Linked DNA regions of Homo sapiens: region 2 is linked to region 1. The links come from fine-mapping of genetic effects on gene expression. Tissue or cell type: skeletal muscle. Region 1 holds a variant in brackets; the other region holds the start of a gene. All regions are shown on one strand. Distances are from middle to middle.

The links. PIP is the estimated chance that this variant, and not a neighbour inherited with it, causes the effect.
Region 2: it holds the start of WASHC3, and the variant in region 1 is the best candidate, but not a certain one, in a credible set for the expression of WASHC3 in skeletal muscle (GTEx, PIP 0.89).

What each region holds. Positions count from the first base shown.
Region 1 is chr12:101,940,133-101,948,279 of GRCh38, reverse strand. No RefSeq gene overlaps it. Among named protein-coding and RNA genes, the nearest start is that of DRAM1-AS1, 20 kb to the left of the region's middle. The variant T/G (reference allele first, on the strand shown) is at 3,205.
Region 2 is chr12:102,058,022-102,066,215 of GRCh38, reverse strand. It overlaps WASHC3 (WASH complex subunit 3), which reads left to right and starts at 4,225. Exons shown (of 7, transcript NM_016053.4): 1 at 4,225-4,304; 2 at 4,870-4,968. The coding sequence starts at 4,254. RefSeq lists enhancers at 4,307-4,506, 4,517-4,566.

The DNA.
Region 1 (8,147 bases):
ACCATTTTTCATTATTCAAATCATACTTTTAACATCACATTTATTAGAACTATAAATAATGCTCCCATAAACAGCTTTGTTTATAAATTTTTATCCAAGTTTCTGATTATTTCATAATAATAACAACTTCCACTAAATAATAGACTGGTGGAAAAAGAATTACTAGGTCGAAATTTAAGGCTGTTATTATTTATCAAATTATGTGCCAGAAGGATTGTACCAATTTATGTATCTAATGAAAGTGTGTAAGCATGACCATTTCTCCATACCCTCACTCACCATCATTGGCTGTGAGCTTTTAAAAATATCTTTGTTGCCCCTGAGACTGAAATATTATATATATATATATATATTTTTTTTTTTTTGAGATGAAGTCTCACTCTGTTGCTGGGGCTGGAGTGCAGTGGCAAGATCTCGGCTCACTGCAACCTCCATCTAATTTTTGTATTTTTAGTAGAGACAGGATTTCGCCATGTTGGCCAGGCTGATCTCGAACTCCTGACCTTAAATGATCGGCCTGCCTCGGCCTCCCAAAGTGCTGGGATTACAGGCGTGAGCCACTGTACCCAGGCATATATGTGTTAATCTAATGGAGAAAATTTTCTGATTTAAATATTAATATCCTTGCAAATTGAGATTGATTTTTTATATATTGTTAACAGTTAAGAATTTTTACACAACACTCATAGAGTGTATGGTGAGTATTTCTTTATTTTGCTATATCAAATTAAATCCAGTTTGAGTGTCCCACAGGACAAAATTGGCAGGAAGCTCAATAACAGATCTCTTTCCCAGTTTTCTTTGTCTCTCTTAGATGGTGGGGATCCTGGACCCTGCATGGCTGTGTAAAGGCAGGGAGCTCTGTTCTGCTGCCTCATCCCTCTAAGGGAGGCATAGGGAAAACTTTATAAAGGGGAAACTTCACCTGGGTTCCCACAGCACTGAAGGCAGTGTCCGGTTCTCACACTTCCACATGCCTTATATCTACCTTAAAGACACTGGAGTGGGTACAGGGCCCCTTCCTGCTCAAACCTTTAACCACCTGTTGCTTACCCACTGTCACCTCTGTCAGCACCACAGGAAGAAACCTCTAGTTCCCGTTACTTGGAAGAGTTATAATTTGGGAACACTTAAGTGTGGCATGCTAGGCTTGTTGCTGGTTGTAAAATTAAACAAATAGTCTGGGTCCGGTGGCTCACGCCTGTAATCCCAGCACTTTGGGAGGCCAAGGCGGGTGGATCACCTGAGGTCAGGAGTTCGAGACCAGCCTGGCCAACATGGTGAAACCCCGTGTCTACTAAAAAGACAAAAATAAATAAATAGCCGGGCATGGTGGTGGGTGCCTGTAATCTTGGCTACTTGGGAGGCTGAGAGGCAGGACAGTCGCTTGAACCCAGGAGGTGGAGGTTGCAGTGAGCCGAGATCATACCGTTGTACTCCAGCCTGGGCAACAAGAGTGAAACTCTGGCTCAAAGAAAAAAAAAAATTAAATAAGTAAGTATGGCATGCAGGGTGTGGGGAGGTTAAGGGAAACGAATGGCTGGGGTCACAGAAGGTTATGTGTATTCCAAAATGCTTTTCCCAGTGGAATGAGCAGATATTTCAGAAGACAAAAGTTTTAACTGTTGGAAGTGTGATATAAATGTCACAGGTCTAAGAAATCAGATATGGAATTATTGACCTATGAGCCATCCTATTTCCTTTGTAACCAAGAAAAAAAATCACATCATTTTTATTGAGCTAGACTATAAATACAAAGTCAGACTGAACAGCACTTCATGGACACACTTACTACCAAGGCCCTCTGTATTCACGCCTCCCATAGCCACTAATTTTTCATATCCTGCTCTTTGAAAAAGCTTCACTTACATAAAGTGCCACAGGATGTACCTTCTGCCAGCCAATGAATTGACTACTGGTCTCATCACTTGGGGTGACAGGACAGATGGAAAAACCCAGTCATAGTTGCTTGTATCCAAGGAACATAAAGTGCTGCTTTTAACTCTTCTTTCAAGGAAAGTAGCTGAGTGAAAAAGCCAAGTCCTCATGCAACCCACCACCAACTATCCAAACCTGCCTCTGTGTTAAGACAGTGCAGGGGCCAGTCTGCATCTAAGACAGAGGAAGAACTAGCCAGAAACCACCTGAAGGCTACTAATACCAAACACGTTACGAGACAACACGTGCCAGTGCAATCTGTGTGCATTATGCCTTCCCTAAAGGTATGTCAACAAAGGAAGGAAACAGAAACTATTCCCCATGCGGGCAACCTCCCCTCTGCCGCACGTGCAAGAGCTGGGGCAATGGATGCAAAAGAGGGCAGAGGAATGAGGGCCCCTAAGAAAGTAGAACAGATAAGGGCTCAGCTCTTGTACTTTGAATTTGTCAATGGATAAGAGAGGGGCTTTTAGAACTGTTTCACTCTTCCAGGTCTATGTGAGGTCCCGTGGATGTAGTTACTCCACCACAAAATCTCACATCTCCTTAAGATTCAGTTCAGCCCTGAAGTAATAATGCCTCTTTGGAAAGAACAGAAGAGCCCAGAAGCCTCTGGGTTCAAAAGGGCACGGTCTAAACTGACAGCCTGCTTGCCAGCCTCAGAGATAATAAAACTTCTCAGACTGGGAGAGAAATCCACTGTCAAGAATGTCTGCTGAGGAGAGCTCGCTCTGATTGCCGCCATCCCCATAAACAAAAACAGATGTGTGTGCTCACGAGTAAAGTAAACATTCAAGTTCAATATACGCTCCTCTCCGCCAATCCAGTTTGGCACCTCAATGCGAGCAAATAGTCTGTGAGGCAGAGTGGAACTTTTCTATAACATGGGCGGTGTCAAGTGACAGGGCTCACATCTGTGTATTAGGTTACTTGTTATATGAAAAAGCTATAGAATAGACTTTCTGTTTCCCAGGGAATGATTTGAGCTATGGTAAATCTATTGCAATGGAATAAATAGTTGATCCATATTAAAGAAACAAAAGAGCATCATGTTGAAGAACATGAGTTTAAATCCTGGTTCTACCACTTAGGGTTTGTGTGACCCTGGGCAAGTCATTTAACCCCAGTGTTTAACATCTGTAAAATGAGTTTTAGTAGTACTTATCTCTCATCTTGCGGTGGCAAGCATAATAAAATGTGAGCTCCTTCTAGGATTCTTCCATGGCACTAGAGGAAGTAGGATCTAAAAGTCTGAATATCTAAGCT[T/G]GTCTTTATTCATCCTTTCAACAAATATGTATTGAGTATCTACAGTGTGCCAGGTACAGAGACAGAGCAGTGACGACGACAGGTATAACTCAAAGGGACAGGATAGAAAAGGGATGAAACACGTCCCTGTTGTTTACTGTGGACTGTTCCTGGATGCAGCCATGTGGCATTTCTGCTTACATCCCACTGATCATAGTAGCAAGAGGGCTGGGTTAGCTGTTATTCTAGATGGCTTTGTGACTGGTTATAAATTAGAGCATTTTGGCTGGGCATGGTGGCTCACACTTGTAATCCCAGCAGTTTGGGAGGCCGAGGCGGGCAGATCACGAAGTCAGGAGTTCGAGACCAGCCTGGCCAACACGGTGAAACTCCGTCTCTACTAAAAAATATAAAAATTAGCTGGGCATGGTGGTGGGTGCCTGTAATCCCAGCTACTCGGGAGGCTGAGACAGGAGAATTGTTCGAACCCAGGAGGCAGAGGTTGCAGTGAGCCGAGATCACGCCATTGCACTCCAGCCTGGGCGACAGTGTGAGACTGTCGCAAAACAAAACAAAACAGAACAAAAATAAATTAGGGCATTTATTCATCACAGAGTCTACAGTCTTGTGATTTATCTGTCCCCTAAGATGTGGCCCTCCTATATCACTTGCCACCCTGAGCTTGGTGTTTCCCAAAGTTTTTTAAACATAAGAATCTCCTGGCACCCCTGTGAAAAGACAGATTCTGAGACCTCACCTTATCCTACTGAAAATTACAGGAGGATTCTGACTCCTTTTTCCTCACTGGCAAAACAGGGAGCAGAGCAAGCCCTATCACAATCTTGTATGTTTCAAGGGAAATAGCATATGCAAAGGAGCTTTGGAAACCATGAAGTTACTCTCTCGTGGCTGGTTTCCAGGCTCGCTCTGGAGGTTCAGAGGCAAAAGCCACTCTGAGGCTGTGGCCCATCACAGTGTCCTCCTCCCCCACACCACCTTCCCTTTTGGGGCTTTCTGGAGACACCAATCAGAAGCCACCCACCTCCATTTGAACCCAATGAACTGATGGTCCCAGGCTGGAACCTGCCTAAAGTTTACCACCAAGGTGGACACCTGAGTTGTGTTCTAGGAGTGCTGATTACAGAGCTTCAGGGGGTCAGGCAGCAGTCAAAACTGATGGTTTTCAAGGGATGGCCCTGCCTTCCCTTGGTACCTGCTGGAATGGAAAATGAACCCAAAGATTAGAGTGGGGAAATGTAGGGTCTTGGTAAGTTCTCATCACCCAGGCCCTGCCCCTTTCTCCAGCTACATCTCCCTCTACCCCTCCATATACCCATCTAGCCTCTGATTACTCCTCTCCTTCTTTCAGTAATAAAATCCTCTACTTTATAACCAGTCACAAAGCCACCTAGAATAACAACTACCCCCAGCCCTCTTGCTACTATGATCAGTGGGATGTAAGCAGAAATGTCACATGGCTGCATCCAGGAACAGTCCATAGTAAACAACTGGCATGTGTTTCATCCCTTTTCTATCCTGTCTCTTCTTTCATCCTGCTGCTTGGAATACTGATGAGATGGCTGAAGTTCTAGCATCTATTTTGGATGTTGGGGATGAAACTACACATTAGGAGTACTGGAATAGAGAAGGAGCCTGGAGCCCTGAGCACTGTGTGGAGTTGAGCTTCTAGTCTAGTTTTGGACTATCTAGTTTGGACTAACCTCTGGACTTCTACCTAAGAGAAATAAACTTCCATTTAATTTAAACCACTGTTGTTTTGGGTTCTGCTATCACAGCCAAAATGAATACTAACTAACAGAGTGCTCAGGAGCATGTATTCTGGAATTAGATTGGCCAGGTTCAGTCACTTATTACCTGGCAGCCTTACGCAATTTGCTTCCCTTCTTTGCCTCAATTGTAAAATCAAAATGCTCCAGCCTGGCCAACATGGTGAAACCCCATCTCTACCAAAAAAGCACAAAAATTAGGCAGGCATGGTGGCACACACCTACAGTCCCAGGTACTTGGGAGGCTGAGGTGAGCAGCTTGAACCTGGGAGATGGAGGTTGCAATGAGCCAAGATTGCGCCACTGCACTCCAGCCTGGAAGACAGAGTGAGACCCTGCTTCCCAAAAAAAAAAAAAAAAACCAAAATGCTAAAGACAGCATCTACTTCCTGGAATTGCTAAGAATGAGCTAAAACATGTAAAGCTTAAAACATGGAAAGCCCAGCACATAGTACGCACTCATTGAACATGAGCTATTATTGAAATCAGCTATTAAATACATAAAGAATAAAGATATACCCCTAAAGGAGCAAGACTGAAAGATATTCTCTATCATGCTGCATGCATGCACTTTTGCAAAGGGCTACATTTTTCTGTTAGTAAAGAAACACAGAAGGTGGGCTGGGCAGTGTGGCTCATACCTGTAATCTTATTGGGAGGCTGAGACAGGCGGATCACTTGAGGCCAGGAGTTCAAGACCAGCTTGGCCAACATGGTGAAACCCCATCTCTACTAAAAATACAAAACAATTAGCTGGGTGTGTTGGCACATTCCTGTAATCCAAGCTACTTGGGCAGCTGAAGCATGAGAATCATTTGAACCTGGGAGGCGGAGGTTGCAGTAAGCTAAGATCACACCACTGCACTCCAAGCTGGGTGACAAAGCAGGACTCTGTTTCAAAAAACAAAAAAAGAGTCATAGAATATAGAAGGTGCCCAAATTCCCAGTGGAAGAATTTTGTTTACTCATCCCTGACACAGCTCAGATATAAATAGGCCCTTTATTTGATCACATAAAATGGTAGTCCTAGAATGTACTTTGAAAAAGGAGGTCCAATCTAGGCTTAGCTCGGAAATGGAGATAGAAGGAAAGCCTTGATCCCTCTTGATGGCATCTGGATAACAGGGCCTGAGCCTGAGTGATATTCATGTTCACCCTTAAAGGGGCCCAAGGAGTGGAGCATCTGGATTGGGGCGAGGGTTCATGACAGTGCATGTGTTTTGAATTGGTGATTCTTTTAACAGAAGCAGTTTGGAACCAAGACTGGGAAGCTGCTGCTAACTGGAATGTTCTAGCCATGTTTCATGTTCCCTGAGGGCAGAGCTGGTGGCTCTCAGTGTATTGGGGGGATTTAAGTTAGATGCTAGGAAGAACTTGTTTACTATAATAGTTGTGAAAGGCAGATACAAATGTGGTTGTAGAATGTTTCTATCTCTAAGAAGATAATCTGAAGATAGTAGAGGGGGAAGTATCTTTCACAGATAGAGGTTATGAACTGAGCATCCTCCAGTAAGAAAGAGGAAGTGAGAACAAAGAAAGTAATAGCATAATACTTCTGAGTAGTTGTTTCTTCAGTCCAAATAGACCTAAGTTCAAATCCTAGCTTACCAGTTCCAATTAACCACTCTGACCCTCAGTTTCCTCCTCTAACAGGAGATCACAGTACACCCGCCTCTGAGAGTGACTGTGAGGTTGAGACAAAATATATCCAATAATATGGGAGGTGTTCAATAAATATTCATTTTATTCTTGTCTTACAAATCTTTTCCTATTCTGCGACTCTATGATTCAGCACTTCCTGGAATTCTAAGGCACTAGAAACTTTCCAAAGAGTTTGAACTGCTTAATTGCTAGCTTCCAAGCTCTTCCCAGCATTTCTTTGAGAGGTGAATAGTAGAAATGGATCACAAATCAGACAGACAAATGCATTTTGTTTGCTGGTCTAGCAATATCCCCTTACATGCTATTTTCTCCATTGTTCTCACTGGGACAAGAATGGGATTGTCAAAAACAAGTCGCACACTGCAGTGTGTAGAATTAGGATGGGATGTGGCTATTGCTCCTGCACTTTGCTGCCTGCAGAGATAAGCACCTGAAGTCTCTTAAGGGCTTGAGACTGGGGTCCAGCACAGGGCGGTGGGAAGGGCATTGCTTTGGGGAACAATTGTCTAGAAGCTCCCGGACTGGCCGGGCTGGTACCTCTCTGCATGACTCCCTGGTCCTCTCCTGTACATAATGCAAGGATGAAATTAGGTGAATGCAAAAGACTCTCCAAACTCAGAGTTTCTCTGAGCTGGTGATTGCTATGGGTGGAGAGTGATTCCTCTGTCCTTTGCTGGTTTCTGTGGGCTATATTCCTGGATCTTGTTTTCTCTTTCTCTTGAGGAAAACATTTTAAAAGTATATGTAAAGTCTTCTCCTACGTGGGAGGCTCTGCGTAGGGGCTGTGTTGGCGGGTAATAAGGGAAGATACAGAGAAAAAAATAACCAACCTGAGCATTTGCTGCTGACAATTACCTTAAGTCTCTTGTGTTTGGCTCTGTAAGTCTCTTGTGTTTGGCTTGGATAGGGAGACCTGTCTGTCTTGTTCTACTTCACAAGAGAACAATAAAGACATGATAAGTGAGAAAAAGCTATGTGATATATCCACATACGTGGGAGGCTCTGTGTAGGGGCAGTATTCGCTGGTAATAACCTCCTCTCCCCTCCTCTCCCCTCCCCTCCCTTCCCCTCCCTTTCCCTCCCTTTCCCTTCCCTCCTCTCCCCTCCCTTCCCCTCCTCTCCCCTTCCCTCCTCTCCTCTTCTCTCTCAATTGCCTCCAATCCTTTTATAGCCTGCCACATCATTAAAAAGAGTCTTATTGTATAAGTCTTGAGCCCAAAGTCTAGAGAAAAAATTTAAATTACAAAGAACTTATGTCCTAAAGAAGTTTGTTCTTTTCCTCACATGTGCAATTTATTCCCCCTTTAAAATGAGAAAGCTGGTGAAGGAAAGAACCACTCATTTCTCAACTCATAGGCGCTATGTTTCTTCAATAAGAACTTCCACAGTGGAATGTAGTTGCCCCAAGGTGGAAACAAACCATTGACAAGCAGTTGTTGAAAAGAGTTGCTTTATGTGATTTTCTATCTATAAAGGGAATGAGCAAAAGAAAGATGTTAACCTATCCTGATTCTA
Region 2 (8,194 bases), 120 kb before region 1:
TAATGGTGAACTAACAGAGACTCTGCCCTAAATTGGTAATATAGTAGGCTTTCAAGCAAACAGGCAATTATATGTGCTAAGATAGAGTTAAGCAGAGAATGCTATGGAAGCATGTAAGAACAGTTAATCTAATCTGTGTGGCTTTGGGAAAGCTCTAAGGATGGAATGTTAAGACTTCTGCTACTAGTTCGAATACAGAAAGATGCATGAAAGCCTTTTATTTAGTGGTAATAAGAAATAACCAGATAAAAATCATACTTTTTATGGGGCTGTTGAAAAGCCATGTATGTAAGACCTTAATGAAATAAATTCTATAGTCATGCCTATGTTTGGAGGAACATAGTTGAGCAGAGAGCTGTGGCATTGCCATGCCCAGGGAGAAGGGCGTGGTCTGGATACAAGTAGATGGAAGAACAAGCCTGCAACACTCTAGGAGACTTTGCAGAGTTAAGGAGAAAGTGGCTAAGACTTTGCTACAAGCTGGTGAGACAGACTTGGGTCTGGAAGGACCTCAATCACGAAAATAAATCACTTGGGCCTACACCCTACCCCTAAGATTGCTAAGAAAGCAGTAATGGAGGAAATGTTTTCGGTAAGTAGAATTCACTAAATCTTGCACATTCTTATGGTGCTTGGATTCCTGAGCCCTGCTGAAGCTGAATCCGAAGGTGAACCAAATGATCTGAAACTATGGCCCATCCCTCTCTAACACAGACAAGATCCAAGAGCTCAGTCCTTTGCAGGAGGTTGAATTGAATTAACTGCAGGTAAACTTAATCTAAAGCTGCAGCCCAGCATCAGCTCAATTCAAATTGTGAATGAATCTGAATGTTCCATTTCTCACTGAACTTTGTTCTTTTTTTCACAATGTCCATAATAAAATTAAAAATTATAAGACATGCTAAAAAGCAGGAAACATAACCCATAATTAGGAAAAAGTTGTCAATAGAACCAGGCACATAGATGAACCAGAAATTGGCATTATTAGATAAGGACTTTTTAAAAACTTATAAATTTGGTTTTTTTAATATAGAGGAAAAGATGAATGAAGGGAATTTCAAGAGAAAAACAAACTCTAAAAAACAGATTTTTAGAAAAAAATACATCTGAAATCAACTTATTAGATGAGTTCTGGAACTAAATTGGAAACTAGAAAATAGTTAAATTGGAAACTAGAAAATACTTGAAGATAGGTTTGTAAGAATTATCCACACTGAAACACAGGGAGAAAAGAAAATGATTGGGGGGAAATGAGCAGAGCACCGTGATCTATGGGCAAAATCAAGCAGTCTAACATACAAGTATTTTTGAAGTCCCAGAAAAAGAGAAAAATGACAAAAACATTTTTTGAAGAATTAATGGCCAAAAATCTTTCTTCCAAATTTGATTTAGAACACCAACCCACAGATCTGAGCAGCTCAGCAAACTACAAGCAGGATAAATACAAAGAAAACCATACCCATACCCCACGCACATTATATTCAAACTTGAAAACCAAGGATAAAGGAGAGAAGATATGTGAAGAATGAGTAGGAGTTAGCCAGGCAGGGGTTGTTGGGAAGCAGGGGAGATTGTTCCAGGCAGAGGGAAGACAACATCTTGAAAGACCCACACACAGCAAGCAATTCCAGGAATTGAAAGAAGTTATTTGGGGCTAAGGAGAAAGTTATAACAGTGAGAGGTAAGGTTAAAGAAGTGGCCAAGAGCCACAGAGAGGACCTGTGAGCATAGTATCTGAGGGAGATGGGGAACAAAATTATATCCTGAGTAATATAATCAGATTTGTCTTTTTAAAAATCACTATGGCTACAATGTGTGGAGTAGCTTGGAGAGACACAAAATGGAGGCAGGAAGAGGCTATTGCAGTAACCCAGGCACAAAAGTGTGTTGTACAGAACTTGAGATATGGCAGTAAGGATGGAGAGTTACAGACTGATTCAAGAACTACTTAGGAAGTAGAAGAGGTAAGATTTGATGAATGACTAGATGTAAAGGAGGATGGAGTAAAGAGTGACTGTTAGACCTATGCAACATTTCCAGGTTCAGCCACCTACCCTCAAGTCACATTCATTACCTTGTACCAAACAGAATGTCCCGAAATGCAATTCTGATCATGCCACCCCCTGCTTAAAAGCTCTTCTGTAGCTCCCATCATTTCTCTGCTCTAGATCTTTCCATGACTTCCCATCATACCCAGAGTGAAAGCCAAAGTCCTTATGATGTCCCATAAAGCTCTGCATGATCAGGTCTCCACATAACTTTTAGCCATCATGTCCTTCAGTTCCCCACCTTGCTCACTCTGCTTCAGCTATACTGGCTTCCAATGTAAGGTCTGGGTTAGATATATAAATGTGAGAAACTCTAGAGATTGGGGACATAAGAAGCAACCAGCAAAAGAAACTGAAAGGAAATGACCATAGTGATACAAAGAAAACCAGAGAAGATCTGCCTTCCTGAAAGAAAAATTAAGAAAGTTCAATCAGGAGAAGGTGATCACGCTAAGGTTAAGCTGGGCAACGTGCAACTTTAAGAAACACCACCCACACCCAAATAATTGCTACAGATGGCCTATGAATCACATTAGATAAACATGGACTATAGTATCAAATCTGGCATAAAAGGCCCTTAAACGAAAATTTTCTGGCTACGTCTCCTGAGGCAGAATAGGGTCTGGAGGCAGGGAACCTAACGCCGATTCACGCTGACTTCCTAGAACTAAATCAAAAGGTAAACCCCAAATTTCCACACCTAAGTAACAAAAGGACCAGCGGCTACTCCCTTTGCAAATCCCCACCTTTTCTGACAGGCAGATGGAAATTGAAAGTACCTCAACCAATCAGACTGATTGCGGGCCAAATCTTCCTTTGCATAGAAGTGCAACTAAGTAACATCACTTTAGCCAATGATTGGTTGCTTTCCACAACCAATCAGATGTTTGTATAGGAGTATGACCTTTGTCATTTTACTTCAGCCTCTGATTGGTTGCTTTCCATAACCAATCAGACTGATTGTGGGCCACCACTTCATTTGCATGAGGAGAACACCAGTGTCCAATGGGAAATCTCTAGTGGGTATTTGGACCTAAGAAGATTCTGTATCCAGTACACTGTGGAGCGTACTTTGGTTTTCAATGAATCTTTGCTTTTGTTGGTTCATTCTCTCCTTGATTTGTGCGTTTTGTCCAATTCTTTGTTCAAAAGAACCTGGACACCCTCCACCAGTAACACTCTTACCTCATTTCCTACCATTCTCCATTTATGGGATTATTTGCTTCAACCAAACCAACAGGCCAGGTGCCAGTGGCTCACACCTATAATCCCAGCACTTAGGGAGGCCAAGGCATGAGGATCATTTGAGCCAAAGGGTTTGAGACTAAGGTGAGCTATGATCCTCACTGCACGCCAGACTGGGTAACAAAGCGAGACCCCCCATCTTTAAAACAAAACTGCCCACTGCAGTCTTGGTCTTCATCTTTTTGATGCTCCCTGTAAGTGGCAGTCACTTCCGTAGGTTTGTGCCTCACATCTAGTAGTTGACATTTTATTTCATGTTTTAAAAACCTTTGGAAGACCAGGCGCGTTGGCTCACGCCTGTAATCCCAGCACTCTGTGAGGCTGAGGCAGGAGAATCGTGTGAGGCTGAGGCAGGAGAATCGCTTGAGGCCAGGAGTTCGAGACCAGCCTGGGGAAATAGCGAGAACTTGTGTGTATACACACACACACGCTTTGGAAGTAGGTCTTATTTCTCATTCTTCAGGGCATAAACCTCTCCCGTGCAGCAATCAAACTCAATCTTTGTTTTCCCAGTAAAAGCCTAGCAGAGTATATGGCACTTAGGATTAACAACAACAAAAAAAAAATTGTTGCTCAAGGAATGACGGAGTTATTATATAACAGACAGGACTAAGTAGGGATAACCTCAAAAGGACGCAACTTCTGGCTTTGTTTTTTTGTTTTGTTTTGTTGCCTCCTTTCTAAGATTTCAGTGCTCTAACTGCATCCTTGCACCACCGCGCGCCACCCCGAAATTGACGTCACAATCTGGACTAAAACTACCAATCCCAGAATGCCGAGCGAGGAGGCGGGCTCTCCGGAAGCCGCCGAGTGATTAGTGAGCGGAGAAGCTTTCTTCCGGCGGGAAGGGCCCCGGAGGCGGGCACTTGGGGGGAAAGTTGAGACGTGATTACCGGGTTGGGCGGGCCCCATCTGGGAGGGGTTTGTGGGTGAACTCGGGGTCCACCGCCCGCTGAGGAGATGGATGAGGACGGGCTTCCTCTCATGGGGTCAGGCATAGACCTGACCAAGGTTTGTAAAAGACGGTGCTAGACTCCCGACGAGCCGGGAGGAGGATGGGGAAGACGCAGCTTTCCGGGGAGACACCCACCTTCCGAGTCCCCACCCTGTCACGGCCTCGGGCCCTTGTGACAGGCCTGTGGGGCCTCAGGAGGGAGAGCCCCACAGTCCACCTTGAAATGGGGTCCCTCCTGAGCTGATTAAGGAGACGGTGTGCATCTCCCAACTGTCGCTTCCCATCTCGCTTGTCTCTCTGCCGCCGGCGACACACGCCGGTTGCGATAGCTAGCCCTACCTCTTATTCAGCCCCCAAGATTTTGTGTGTGTTTATGTGTGGTGCTTTTTGCCTGCCAAAATTCGTACCAGTGAGTCTAGAGCCTGTTCTCAAACTTTTGTGCACCTCTGTCATCTTCGGACACCCCACCCACAGCTTAGGAAACAAGTTAATGACTATTCCCAGTCCTTCAAGAAATTCATATCACACAGCAAAGTGCCTCGTGATTATGTCCAAATATGAAAAGATTTGCACTGTGTACGTTCCTCCTGTATGAACCATGTTTGTTTTTACGTAACACAGGTGCCAGCTATTCAACAGAAAAGAACGGTGGCTTTTCTAAACCAATTTGTGGTGCACACTGTACAGTTCCTCAACCGCTTTTCTACAGTTTGTGAGGAGGTAGGTCCGGTGATACTGGTTTATAGAGTCGCCTGGAAATCACCTTTCACTGCTGAGACTGACAAATGGAGTAAAACAAGAATTACAGTCTTTATTCATGTACCGTGACCTCTCATCACCCAATTGTGTTAACACATCTTAGGTTCTCTTTTACTCTGTTAAAATCAATCCTGCACCCCTCCTCTACTGAGTTAGTGTTCTAGAGGTCCCTGTGAGATAGGTCAGTCAGGCTTATTGCGATTAAAGGGAACAATAGGAAATCTAATTTTTTTTTTTTTTTTTTTTTTTTTTGTGAGACAGGGTCTCACTCTGTCACCCAAGCTACAGTGCAGTGGCGCGATCTCGGCTCACTGCAACCTCCACCTCCCGGGTTCAAGCGATTCTCCTGCCTCAGCCTCCTGAGTAGCTGGGATTACAGGCATGCGCCACCATGCCTGGCTAATTTTTTATATTTAGTAGAAACGGGGTTCCAACATGTTGATCAAGCTGGTCTCGAATTCCTGACCTTGGGCGATCCACTAGCCTCGGCCTCCCAAAGTGCTGGGATTACAGGCGTGAGCCACCGCGCCCGGCTTCTAAAATTTCACAGTTGAAAACAGTTTTTATTTTGCAATTTGTCATTCGTTCCCGTACCCCAAAACCACATTGTTTAAATTTATTTTACATTCTGGATCTAAAAGATGGCTAGAGGAGATAGCCTAGAAACATAACTTTGGCATCAAATATGATTATAGAAATGAAAATATTTTCTGCAAATGACTTGTGATGTAAGGATTAAGTACCCAACTAGGGATTAGGTACCAGAACTGGCACAGCAGTGCGCACCTGTAATCCCAGCTACTCGGGAGGCAGAGGCAGGAGGATCACTTGCGCCCGGGAATTTGAGACAAGACTGGACAACAGAGAAACTCAGTGTTTTGTTTTTGTTTTTGTTTTAAAAAAGAGGATTAGGTACTAGATCCAGGATCCAGGGAATCCCTGTCTTTTAAAAAGCCAAAAGAGGATGGGGAAGACAATGGGAACCATGGGTTGAAATTGCATTTAAGGAAAGAGCAAAGTAAATTATGGGACTTAGATATTCACAAGTAAGTCTGTTGAACATTCTGTCTTATGTAAGGTATAGCCTTAGCAATTAGAGTTTTTGTTAAGTGTGTTACTACTATTAATAAAAATTGCATGGAGATGGGAAAACTATTTTTTACTTGTATGAAATTCCAGTTATTGTTTTGTCTAATTATCAACATTTCTTCTGCCTTCTAAGACAAAGTAAAATATAGTAATTGGTAGAGTAAGGGGCTTAATTCAATTTAGTTTTATATGTTAATGGCCAGAAACTAGGTGCTTGCTTCCAGTCAGTTTTATTTCGTTCCTACTATCTCTCTAAATAATTTAGGATATAAAATTGACTGAATAAAAACCAGTAAGCCAAGGTTTTCACCCTTCGATTTTTATACCAGGGCAAGATGGAGAAGTATCTGGAAAGGGACTGTCCCAGGATTACTAGCAGAAAGAAGCAAATACTCTTATCCCCATAGCCCTTATCATCAAGCTGAAAAATAAAGAACAAAGCAACAAGTAAACACACCTATGAAAGCAACTTGTTTGAGCTGTCCTGAAACAGGGATAGCCCTTCACCTTTGTAGTGCCTAATGGTTCTTGAATGAGAGCTGTTTACTGACAACTAGATCAAAGAAAACAATAGTCATCTCATTTATTGATAGATTATGATCAAAGCCTCATGAGTCACTCTTTAACCTCCTCCTGTTCCTGTCTCAACTTCTCTGCAGCTGTTCTGGCTGTATCTGTATTCTAGTACTTCTTTGAACTCTAGAGAAAAGTTTGTTCATCAAAACCTCATGAAGTTTAAAGGTAGTCTATTGCCTTTTGTCCTTTTTCAAAAATCTTATTTCTTTATTTAAATTGACAGGTAAAAATTGTATTTTTATGATGTACAACATGATGTTTTGATATATGAATACATTGTGGAATGGCCAAACCAAGCTATTTAACATAAGCAATGCCTCACGTACTTACTTTTTTTTGTGGTGAGCACACTTAAAATCGCCTCTCTTAGCAATTTTCAATACAATATATTGTTATTAACAGCAGTCACCATGACATGTAGGAGATCTCTTGAACTTATTCCTCCTGCCTAACTGAAATTTTGTATCCTTTAACCGCATCTCCCCAATCCTCTTAACCCCAAGCCCCTGCTAACCACCATTCTACTCAATATTTCTATGAGTTGTACTTTTTTATCCTCCATATATAAGTGAGATCATTCAGTATCTGTCTCTGTTTGACTGGCTTATTTCATTTAACACAATGTCTTCCAGTTCATTTATGTTGTCACAAATGACAGGATTTCATTCTTTTTTAAGGCTAAATAGTATTCCATTGTGTATATATACCACTTTTTTTAATCCATTCATCCATTGATGGACACTTTTGATTCCGTATCTTGGCTATTGTGAATAATGTTGCAGTGAACTTTCAAGTACAGATGTCTCTTGAATGTACTAATTTTACATCCTTTGGATATATACCCAGAAGTGGGATTGCTGGATCATATAGTAGTTCTATTTTTAATTTTTTGTGGAACCTCTGTACTATTTTCTATAATAGCTGTACTAATTTACATTCCCACCAACAGTGTACAGAGGTTCCCTTCATCACATATATGGTTTCCAAATATAGTCTCCCATTCCATAGGTTCTCTTCACTCTATTGATGGTTTCGTTGGCTGTGCAAAAGCTTCGTAGTCTTTTAAAATAATTTTTAAAAAATAATTTAAAATCCAGATTCTACAAACTTCTTAGTGTGATGTAATCCCATTTATTTATTTTTGGTTTTGTTACCAGTGCTTTGGGGTTTATATCCAAAAAAAGTCATTGCCCAGACCAATGTCGTGCAACTTTCCCCTTATGTTTTCTTCTAGTAGTTTTACAGTTTCAGGTCTTACATTTAAATCTTGAATCCTTTTCGTGTTAAATTTTTTTATATGGTAAAGGATGAGGGTCTAATTTCATTCTGCATGTGGATATCCAGTTGTCCCAAAATGATTTATTGAGACTGTTATTCTTAACATCTGTGAAAAGTATGTTTCTGTAACTGTCTTTTCTGTGTTCTTAACATCTTTCTCAAAAATCAATTGACTTTAAATGCATGGATTTATTTCTGGGCTCTTTATTCTGTTTCCTTGGTCTATGGCTGTTTTGATTACTGT